Homo sapiens: one gene and its partners. The protein of the gene in region 3 purifies or fractionates together with the protein of the main gene of each other region. This does not show direct contact. Each region holds a gene or a part of one and is shown on either strand. Other genes may lie near its edges. The genes, in order: CLK4, BDP1 and RGMA.

Region 1 (3,652 bases), on a different chromosome or scaffold from region 3:
TCTCCAACTCCTGACCTTGTGATTCACCTGCCTTGGCCTCCCAAAGTGCTGGGATTACAGGTGTGAGCCACCGTGCCTGGTTGAAAAATAAAACTTTTATGAGGTCCAAGCTCTAGCATTTACGGATTTTGTATGTGTTAATAGGTAGAAACCATGCTCCATTATTTATTTATTTATTTTTTGAGACAGAGTCTCACTCTGTTGCCTGGCCTGGAGTGCAGTGGTGCAATCTCAGCTCACTGCAACCTCTGCCTCCCGGGTTCAAGCGATTCTCCTGCCTCAGCCTCCTGAGTAGCTGGGATTACAAGTGCACACCACCACACCCAACTAATTTATATATATATATATATATATATTTTAAAATTTTTATTATTTTTTATTTTTGTTATTTGTTTATTTATTTTTTTGAGATGGAGTTTTGCTTTTATTGCCCAGGCTAGAGTGCAGTGGCGCAATCTCAGCTTACTGCAACCTCTGCCTTCCGGTTTCAAGCCATTCTCCTGCCTCAGCCTCCCAAGTCACTGGGATTACAGGCGTCTGCCACCACGCCCAGCTAATTTTTTTGTATTTTTAGTAGAGACGGGGTTTCACCATGTTGGTCAGACTGGTCTCGAACTGCCAACCTGGTGATCCACCCGCCTCGGCCTCCCAAAGTGCTGGGATTACAGGCATGAGCCACCGCGCCTGGCCCATGCTCTATTATTATCCATTTGTTCAAATGACAGACACTGGAGCGGATGGTTAACAAAAATGACTTAAGTCATTATATATTGACTTGAATATATTTCTTCTTTTATCTTTAACTTCAGTGATAATGAAAGTAATTGAAATGTCTTTGAATGTAGATTTTATTTATACATTTTTTAACTAAATATTTGATCTTTGAAATATTAAAATATCTATGTGGTTGGTTCTTTCTCCTTCCCAGTCAGTATAGATTTAAGAAGGCTAGATGTTTTATTCTGATCTGAATAATACTGTCATTGAGAATTCTGAAGGAGAAAGTATATAAAATCATGTATAGACAGCGCCGATGTTTATGTATAGATCCCTCTCTGAGCTCCAATGTGTCTGTAATTTCTGCTTATAGGTGAAACTGCTTAAAATTCCCATTATACCTTTTATACAATTTGTGCAAAACGGTAATATTTCTCTTAACGGAAGAAGTAAACTCATGCATCAAGCTGATGATAATTGATAAGGCATTAGTAATTTCATTCTGAGGATAATTATAAACCTGTATTTGTGCTAATAAAATATAAAAATTCTTGGACTAACCATGAACTGAGCATAATAATGGTTTTAACAGCAGTGCTCTCCCATTATATAAACAGTTCAGAGACTATGGAATATTTGCACGAATTGGTTGTATACTTGGAAAATGGTAGCCCCCTTTTATTTTACATAACATGCACCCCTCCCTAGTTAGAATACTGTGTCTTGATGTGAGCATATGGACTATGGAGTGTGTTGAATAGCATTTGCTGTAAAACTAGAACTATAAACCCTGAATTTGGTGTCTTATTCTCCCAAATGGGTTCTGTAAAGGGAGCACTCATATAGGGAAGGATTTAATGTACTGTCAATTAAAAGTTTTTGCATAGTAAAATGTTTCTATTTGTTTTAAAATAGCTTTAGGTTGGTCTCAGCCTTGTGATGTTTGGAGCATAGGTTGCATTCTTATTGAATATTACCTTGGTTTCACAGTCTTTCAGGTACGTGGCTAGTAAATTCCATTTAATAATTCATAACAAATTGTAAACGTTAAAGGTATGCTAAAGTTTTGACTTCCATATTGGAAAATTGCCATACATCATTATTCTTGAGATTAAAACTTAGGCAAAATGGTCATTCTTTAAAACCACAGTTGAATGAAATATTACTATGAGTGAGTGATCATAGTTAATTTTGCATGTGATTAGTGTTTGTAACACATGGTTCATATATGGTTCATACTGTCTCCTTTTTTAAATTGTAGAGCTTCTTCATAAATTTGCAGTAGTGTTAATGTGGCCAGTTTTCAGTTATAGTTATGTTGACTATCAATATGGCCATGAACGAGTCACTTATTCCTTTTTATAAAAGAATTCAGAAACAACAAGGGATTGTATTTTACTCTTAAGTATTAAGCATCTATAATGTCTTAGGCATTTCTAAGTATAAGTACATAAAGGTGAAGAGACAACATCTTTCTCAAGTCATGCAAAAGACATTGGAAAGTTATCGCAGTATAGTGTAGCATTTGCTGTGATGGAACAACGTAGAAAGTGTAGGTAGGGAGGGCCAGGCGGGGTAGCTCACACCTGTAATCCCAGCACTTTGGGAGGCTGAGGTGGGTGGATCATGAGGTCAGGAGATCGAGACCATCCTGGCTAACATGGTGAAACCCTGTCTCTACTAAAAGTATAAAAAATTAGCTGGGCGTGGTGGCGGGCGCCTGTAGTCCCAGCTACTCGGGAGGCTGAGGCAGGAGAATGGCGTGAACCTGGGAGGCGGAGCTTGCAGTGAGCGAGATCATGCCACTGCACTCCAGCCTGGACAACAGGGTGAGACTCTGTTGCAAAAAAAAAAAAAAAAAAAAAAGACAAAGTGTAGGTAGGGAGAACCCAGGAAAGGTTAATAATTACTTTAGAGAAGGCGTCACTGAGAACATAGGAAGAGGAGGAGGAGTTAGAAAACTGGAGTGCAATGGGCATATAAGGAAGAAGAAATAGTATCTGTAAATGCACAGAGGAGTAAAGGAACATATTCTACTCAGGGAAGAATAGCGTTGTCAGAGTGTCTTGTATAAATGGGAAAATTATAACAATAGGCAAGGATCAATTCATAAAAGACTTCGCAAGGTATTGGTTTGATCCTAGAAGTCAGTGGATTCCAAAAGTAGACTGGTCCAAAATGAAAATGGTTGTCTAGGTTTGCCATTCTGACCCTTATTTAGAGATTATCCCTCCTGCTTTTTTTTTTTTTAATGTCTCTTTTATGTAATGATAGTCATAGTTGTTGGTAGTTTGCTTTTAAAAATAAAAAGTCCTTAATTGGTAAAACAAAAAGTAGGAAACTCTACTTTCTTTTCCACTCTGTCCTTAAGTTGTACTTACATCTGAAATCTTAATTTTTTTTTTTTTTTCCCTGAGATGGAGTCTCACTGTGTCACCCAGGCTGGAGTGCAGTGGCGCAACGTCAGCTCACTGCAACCTCTGCCTCCCGGGTTCAAGTGATTCTCATGTCTCAGCCTCCCAAGTAGCTGGGATTACAGGCACGAGCCACTACACCCCACTAATTTTTTGTATTTTTAGTAGAGGGTTTTGCTGTGTTGACCAGGCTGGTCTCGAACTCCTGACCTCAAGTGATCTACCCTCCTTGGCCTCCCAAAGTGCTGGGATTACAGGTGTGAGCCACCGCACCCAGCCTGAAATTTAAATTCTTGAAAGCTTTAGGTGATGCAACCATTGAAGAACTTTAAATAGGGTCATGGTATGATCGAGGTGTTGTGTTGTTTTGTTTGGGGAAGAGGGGCTGGAGATCCCAGCTAGTACTGTTGAGGTTGATTTGAAGTTAGAGCAGTGCAGGGGGCATGCAGCTATGATGGGCTAAGAGTCACTTAGGCAGCTGTTGCACAATGATGAATTCCCTGTTCGTGGGGCACCTCGCC
Region 2 (3,652 bases), on a different chromosome or scaffold from region 3:
TTTAAAACTAGCATGTGTAACAGAAGATTCATGTGCCCTCTTTTTTCTTTTTTAATTTCAACAGTACTGAAAAGACTGGTGGTGACAATGATGTTGAAGAATCCAGTAGATCTTCCTCTACTGTTTCACAGAGAAGAAAGCGAATATCAAGTACTTCTAGCCTGGTTAAGTCTAGTGTCAGTGTTCCTTCAGAATCTCATCCCTTATCTACAATTAATCAAGAGGCTCCACAGCCAACTGCCACTTCAACAAAAGAGAAACAGCCATGCTCAGACAGATACCGAATATACAAAGCCCAGAAACTGAGGGAAATGTTAAAAGAAGAATTGAGAAAAGAGAAGGTAAGGGAGGAGAATCAGGATTTTGATGTTGCCTTCTATTTATGTTAGTAAGGAATCATTGGGAAGAAAAGCATTTGTAGCATTTTGATGGGGGAACAAAACCACATAACATCCCTTAGTCAATAGAACATCCCTTCTTGTTAATGGATTGATTGATACACCGTGGACTTAAATTACATTTTTCACTGATAGTAATTTTTACATTATTTATTTATGTTTTCACTGTTTTTGGTGAAGACCACAAATAAGTTTCATACGCATACACATAGATGCACATACACAAACATATTTATAAAATAAACCTTCAGTCTGATTTTTCACATAAAGATGTCCAAGTGATAAGTGATATATTTATTTGAATTAAGACAAGTATAGGCCGGGCGTGGTGGCTCATGCCTGTAATCCCAGCACTTTGGGAGGACTAGGGGGGCAGATCACTTGAGGTCAGGAGTTCAAGACCAGCCTGGCCAACATGGCAAAACCCTGTCTCTACTAAAAATACAAAAATTAGCTGGGCCTGGTGACGTGCATCTGTAATCCCAACTACTGGGGAGGCTGAGGCATGAGAATTGCTTGAACCTGGGAGGTGGAAGTTGCAGTGAGCCGAGATTGTGCCTCTGCATTCCAGCCTGGGTGATAGAGTGAAACTGTCTCCAAAAAAAAGACGAATATAGTTGAGCAGAATGAATTGGTAATGTTTTCTAAATTGACTATGGAAAATTACAAGTGGGAAAAATTTGTGTTATGCATATATTAGAGTCCATGTTCTTTTTAATCTTGAGGATTGATTTCTTTTCTAGAAGGGCAGGTAACAGCAGTAGAGCATGCTGGCCCTGGAGTTAAATACTTAGGGATTGAATCTCAGCTTCATTTCTTTACTAGCTTTGTGACCTTGGGTAATTTAATTAATCTATTTCCTCATCTGTAAAATAGACCAATAATAGTTCAGGTTGAGCATCCCTGAAATTGAAAATGCTCCAAAGTCTAAAATGTTTTGAGTGCCAAAGTGATGCTCCAGGGAAATGCTCATTGGAGCATATTGGATTTCAAATTTTCAGGTTAGAGATGCTCAGCCAGCATGTATTCTGCAAGTATTCAAAAATGTGAAAAAATCCAAAATGTGAATCATTTCTGGTCTCAAGTATTTCAGATAAGAGATGCTCAACCTCTATCTAGCTCATTAGAGGGTTGTGAAGATTAAATGAGTCAATACATGTAAAACACACTTAAACTGGTGTCTTGGGCCTTGTGCAGTGGCTCACGCCTGTAATCCCAGCACTTTGGGAGGCCGAGGTGGGCGGATCACCTGAGGTCAGGAGTTCGAGACCAGCCTGGCCAACATGGTGAAACCCCGTCTCTACTAAAAATACAAACATTATCTGGTTGTGGTGGTGCACGCCTGTAATCCCAGCTACTCAGGAGGCTGAGACAGGAGAATCGCTTGAACCTGGGAGGCAGAGGTTGCGGTGAGCCAAAATCGTGCCATTGCACTCCAGCATGAGTGACAGAGCGAGACTCCGTCTCAAAAAAAACCAACCAAACAAAAAAACTAGTGTCATGAAAATAGTAAGTGTCCAACCAGTGTCAGCTTCTGTTATGAATTATAAAATGCCTCTTAGTTTTTTTTAAATTAAGGGAAGGCATTTTGCTTGGTGCTTTATATCTGTTATCTTATGTAATTATATCAACTATGTGAAGTAGATATCACTGTTTCACACAGGAGAAAACAAGCTTTCAATTTATGTCTTCTAAAATGTAAGCCTCACAACAATTGCTTGAACCTGGAAGGCGGAGGTTGCAGTGAGCTGAAATTGTGCTACTGCATTCCAGCCTGGGCGACAGATCAAAGCCTCTAAAAATGTTTTATGGGTTGGGAATTGGGGGTGGGGGGATTAAAAAAAAGTTCTGTATTTTACAGAAACTGCTTATTTGCTTATTTAATTTATTTTGGGGAATTAAAGATTAAACATTTGCTTCAAGAATTTTACAAAATACACAGAATTTCAAGTCACTACAGGGTAAAAAAAAAGCTGTGTAAGCATAAATTCTCAGTGAGCTATTAAGATGTTTAGTTAGAAGGCATCAGTAAGCATTTTATACATTGAGCTTTATTAGTTTTATTCTTTGGTTATTTATTTAGTTTTGAGACAAGGTCTCACTGTCACCCAGGATGGAGTGCGCTAGTATAATTGCAGTTCACTGCAGCCTCAACCTCCCAGGCTCAAGTGATCCTCCCACCTCAGCCTCCCAAGTAGCTGTGGCTATAGGCATATGCCACCACATCCAGCTAATTTTTTTGTATTTTTTTGTAGAGATAGGGTCTCATTTATGTTGCCCAGGCTGGTAACTCCTGAGCTCAAGCGATCCTCCTGCCTCAGCCTCCCAAAGTGCTGGGATTAGAGAAATAAGCCACTGTGCCTGGCCACATTGAGCTTTTATCTAGTCCTAGTCACTTTAATTGTTAAAATCTAAATACTGCCTGGGTGTGTGGTTCACTCCAGTGCTTTAGGAGTGTGAGGCAGGAGGATCACTTGAGCCCAGGAATTTGAGAGCAGCCTTGGCAACGTAGGGAGACTCCATCTCTACCAAAAAAAAAAAAACCCCACAAAATTAGCCAGGTGTTAGGCAAGCATCTGTAGTCCCAGCTACTTGGGAGGCTGAGGTGGGAGGACTGCTTGAGCTCAGGAGTTCAAGGCTGCAGTGAGCTATGATTGCGCCACTGCACTTTAGCCTGGATGACAGAGCAAAACCCCATCTCAAAAGTAGATAAATAAAAACTAAAAGCTATTGAGGGTAATGTGCTACAACTTTTTAATATTCCATCTACAAAATTACATAATTGGGGTGAGAATAATATTAAAGCACTTACAGTGAACGCAACAGTGGACTGTATATTTGCATATAGTACATCTGAAATTCTTTAATATTTATAAAAGTGGATCTGTGTGTTTATGTATACAGAAACAATGGAAAAACAAATATGCTATAAATGAAAGTCAGAGGCCACCAGATCGTTCAAAAATGACTATGAGAGACTTCATATATTATCTACCAGATAATAATCCAATGACGTAAGTAAAATTTATTTCTGCTTTACTATCTCTTTTTTTTTTTTTTTTTTTTTGGAGGTGGAGTCTCGCTCTGTCACCCGGGCTGGAGTGCAGTGGTGCAATCTTGGCTCACTGCAACCTCTGCCTCCCAGGTTCAAGCGATTCTCCTGCCTCAGATTCGCGGGTAGCTGGGATTACAGATGCTCGCCACCACACCCGGCTAATTTTTGTATTTTTAGTAGAGACTGGGTTTCGCCATGT
Region 3 (3,752 bases):
AATGGAGACACAGTTTGAGACAGCATGACGGGGCAGACCAGCCACCCACCATTTCATATGTCTATTGGAGAATGTAAGCAACTGTCTGACACCTGGGAGGGAAATAATGGAAGCAGGGTACTTGAAAAAAGGAGGCTAAGACCTCTTTCACTACCAGCACAGCCCAGAGAGTCTCAAGGGGGTACTACAGTAGACCACTACACTGCTCTACAAGGGGCCAGGGTGCCCTTCAGAACCGGGTGAGCCCAGCTCACTGCTAATATATTATCTGGCCTGGAAGGTGGCAGCAAAAACCAGCCACAGAGAACGTGGAGCCCGCCTGGATGTGTGGGTGCCCCACCCAGAGCCTTTGTCTGCAGAACTTGCCATCCAGCCACGTCTGCCCCAGTTGTTAATTGGAGATCATGTCCCTGTAAAGGGGGCTTGCTTGTCACTTGCTGTGGTAACAGCAAGAAACCCCTTCTTTGTATGTGCAAAAAAAAAAAAAAAAAAAACCACAAAACCCAGTTTGGGTACACTATTCTGTTCCTGCACAAATGGGCAGGAGGCCCTCTCCCAGTTCTCCTCCTGTTGCCCTTCGGAGCACAGTTACTCTCTTTTCTAGGGGTCATGGCTCAAAATCCACCCAAGAAATCACCCGTTTGTGATGCACAGGAGAAGACAGAGGTTTGTGCATTGGTTTTCAAGATCTCTGCACCAGATACCTGCGGAAGGGGCATCTTCTTACAGCAGTTAACATTTTATATTACGTTTTTGCTGGAAGAGTCTAAAACCAAACAGAGAAGGTGATGGAGCTCCTTTAGGTGACAGCATGCCACTCAACACGACCCGCAATTTCGTCCCCTGAGCTCAATGTGCTGAGCATGGGAGGTCGGGGTTCTCCCTGGTACCGTCGATACTCAGAGAGCTTCTGTAGCCTCCTTCCTGGAGGCGAGGGCTGGTTCCCGCCTCTCCACCTTGTGCGGGAGACTACTTTGAGAACACCCAACAACTTCGCAGCCTAAGAGGAATGCACAGCTCACCACTTCCGCTAGATGGCGCTACTTCCCCTACTCCGCCCGCGAGACACCCAATTTATAAAATAAATACAACCCAACACCTCCCAAAACCACACCACATAATAGCAGCTCACAGGCTCCCATTAGAAATCTCAATTTGGGAGAACTGATTCTACCTCCGAGCAAGTCTAATACAATTACATTAATAAGACGCAATCCCGAATTGCACCCGAGCGTCCCCCACACCCGCCCTCCCATTGAATACACCTGTCCCCCATGCCCGGGCTTGTACCCTGGGTTGAGCTGCGGCGCGAGCCGGCGCTGAATCGTCGCCGTGCCCTCCCGTCCACTTAGGAAAGCCGGGGCGGCTTGGCAATGGGCATCCTCGGCCCTCAATCCAAGGTCCGCACCTTCCCGTACGCCGGCGCGCCGAGGCAAAGGGCCGCCGGGACGCGAGCCCACGCGGTGCACTGCGCCGACATCCCCGAGGGCAGGAGATGGCCAGGCAGCTCCGCAGCCGGGCGTCGAGCGGGAGGCGGGGGCCCGGGCGGCGCGGGCCAATGGGGGTTCACGGCGGGACAGTCGGGTGGCCGGCTCCGTCCGGGGCTCCGCGAGCCGGGCTGAGGGAAGGAGCTCCCAGCCCGCACACGGTGTAAGGGACGTGTGCCGGGTCTGCCCAACCACGCGCGCTGGCGGCTGCCCGGGGGAGAGTATTTTAGGAAAAAAGAACAAACACCAAACCACAAAAACTTTCCTGCTGCCAACAGCTAAAGCGATAGAGGCGCAGCAAAGCTCCAAATGTGGGCAAGATGGGAGCAAGATGAGACGCGGGGCTAAGGAAGACCAAAGCAGCGCCGTGGCCCCGGCATGTGTCGGCGGCGCCTCGGAGATGTCAGAGCCGGGTCTGCCCGGCTCCCGACCCGCGCTTACCTTGGCGGCTGCATGAGCCCCTGCGGCCCGCGGGGGGTGGCGCTGGCGGGGCTGCGGGAGAAGAGGGGGTGTCGGGGCGCCGCTCGTCTGCCCCGGGGCAAGGTGGGAGGGGCTCCGCTGGCGCTGGTCCCCGCCGCCCCGGCCGGCTCAGCAGCGGCCCGGGGAGCGCCTCCTGCTCCCGGGCTGCATGCCTGCGAGCGCCTGGCGGAGCCGGCCCGGGAGCGAACGGCCAGTGCTTCCCCGGCCCAGCGGCTCGGGCGGCGCAGCCAGCGCTCGGGAGACAACTGCAGAGTGGGGCGGCCGGGACCAGCCCCCTCCCTCGCCCGGCCCCCGCCCGCCGCCGAGCGCGGCGTCGCGAGGTTCGTTTGCGCGCCGAGGGGAGGGGGCGGGCCGGGCGCCCGGGCCGCGGGCGGGGGGCGCGCGCGGGCGGGGCCGGCAGGGAGGGGCGGGGAGGAGCGGGGTGCGGGCTCGCGTTGCCCCGCCCCGCCGCGGCCCCACCCTCCCGCATCAGCACCGGCTGGGTGGGTGCGGAGTGCGCCAGCGGCCAAGTCAAGACTCCTTGAATGCTCAGGTTAGGGGGCGCGGGCGGCAAGTGCGGCGACTCCCCGGGGCGCCTCCAACTTTCCGAATCGCCCGCAGGGTTGCGGTGGAGCGCACGGTGTCCTTCAGTTAGGCGGTGGTCGAGGGGAGTTCCTCTGAGATTTCTGGAGAAGGCGGTTACATCCAAGACAAATGCTGTTGCGCTCTGCGGAGACGCACCTTTGTTCTATAGAGATTTTGTTGTTGTTTAAGAATCTTCCTGAAAAAACTAATACATATGTATTACATGCTAACACACGCATACATTCTTGCGTAGAATTGTACATAACTCAGGAGTGTCTAGAGTGAAAAGACCGTATCGCACTCCCTCCCACGGCCGCGGCTCTCCCACGGCCGCGGCTCCCCCGCGGTAACCTTCGGTCAGGGTGTGCTCTGCCGCGGTTCTTTCCAGTCTCTGCGCTTTTACATGCACACGCACAGATTGCGAGTGGAATCTCCTGGGCTTTTCAAAAGAATGTTTTCAACATTAAGCGCATGCACACAGTGGCTTGAACACGGCCACGTCGGGAGCAGTAAATCCCCAGAGGCTCCGGGAGCCCAGGGAAGGACCCTTGCTGTGAAACAGCAAAGAGCCACCCAATCGCCATGTGTGGATCTGAAACCCCAGCTGGAGCGTGAAGTCGGTCTGGTTACACAGCTCAGGCCCAAATTAGCACTGCACGGTTAGAGAGATTTGCCAGTACATTCTAGACAGGGTTATGACCTTCCCCTTCTTACAGAACAAACTGTCTTGAATTTTGATATGATGAGAACTCTGGATTTGCAAAATGAAAAGGTATCGTCCGCATTAAAACACGATCGTTATTTATGCGTGTGGTCTTCAGAGATGTGGTTTTAACTCAATATTCTCCGTTTTATTTGTCAAGTGTATTTGTATAATCTATAGCTGGGATATAAATAAAATTAAGTGGTTTAGCAGGAAGGGATTGGGGATGGGTTTCTAGAATTAGCTCTGACCTTCGGCAAGTCATCTAGCTCTGCTGGGCCTCAGTTTCCTCATCTATGAATAGTAGGGTGTGTGTGTGTGTGTGTGTGTGTGTGTGTGTGTGTGTGTGTGTGGTCTTCCTGCCCTGACATTCTGTGCCCTGACATTCAGTGAATAACCAATTTCTTCATCTTTCATAGCTCAGCTCCAACATCTTCCCCACCCTCTAGGGAGTCCTCACATCCGTGCCTTTCCTTCCTAACACTGAGCTCACTCGGTAATTAGGCGCTCATTAGAGT

The links.
Region 1: the proteins of RGMA (region 3) and CLK4 purify together in Homo sapiens (affinity purification with mass spectrometry; one large-scale study listed by BioGRID and IntAct). This does not show direct contact.
Region 2: the proteins of RGMA (region 3) and BDP1 purify together in Homo sapiens (affinity purification with mass spectrometry; one large-scale study listed by BioGRID and IntAct). This does not show direct contact.

What each region holds. Positions count from the first base shown.
Region 1 is NC_000005.10:178,606,439-178,610,090, reverse strand, and holds part of CLK4 (dual specificity protein kinase CLK4), read left to right. Parts: intron 1-1,632; coding exon 1,633-1,715; intron 1,716-3,652. UniProt on the Homo sapiens protein: Dual specificity kinase acting on both serine/threonine and tyrosine-containing substrates.
Region 2 is NC_000005.10:71,458,515-71,462,166, forward strand, and holds part of BDP1 (transcription factor TFIIIB component B'' homolog), read left to right. Parts: intron 1-64; coding exon 65-341; intron 342-3,302; coding exon 3,303-3,412; intron 3,413-3,652. UniProt on the Homo sapiens protein: General activator of RNA polymerase III transcription. Requires for transcription from all three types of polymerase III promoters. Requires for transcription of genes with internal promoter elements and with promoter elements upstream of the initiation site.
Region 3 is NC_000015.10:93,086,991-93,090,742, forward strand, and holds the start of RGMA (repulsive guidance molecule A isoform 3 precursor), read right to left. Parts: upstream 2,222-3,752; 5' UTR 1,943-2,221; coding exon 1,929-1,942; intron 1,534-1,928; exon of another isoform or gene 1,291-1,533; intron 1-1,290.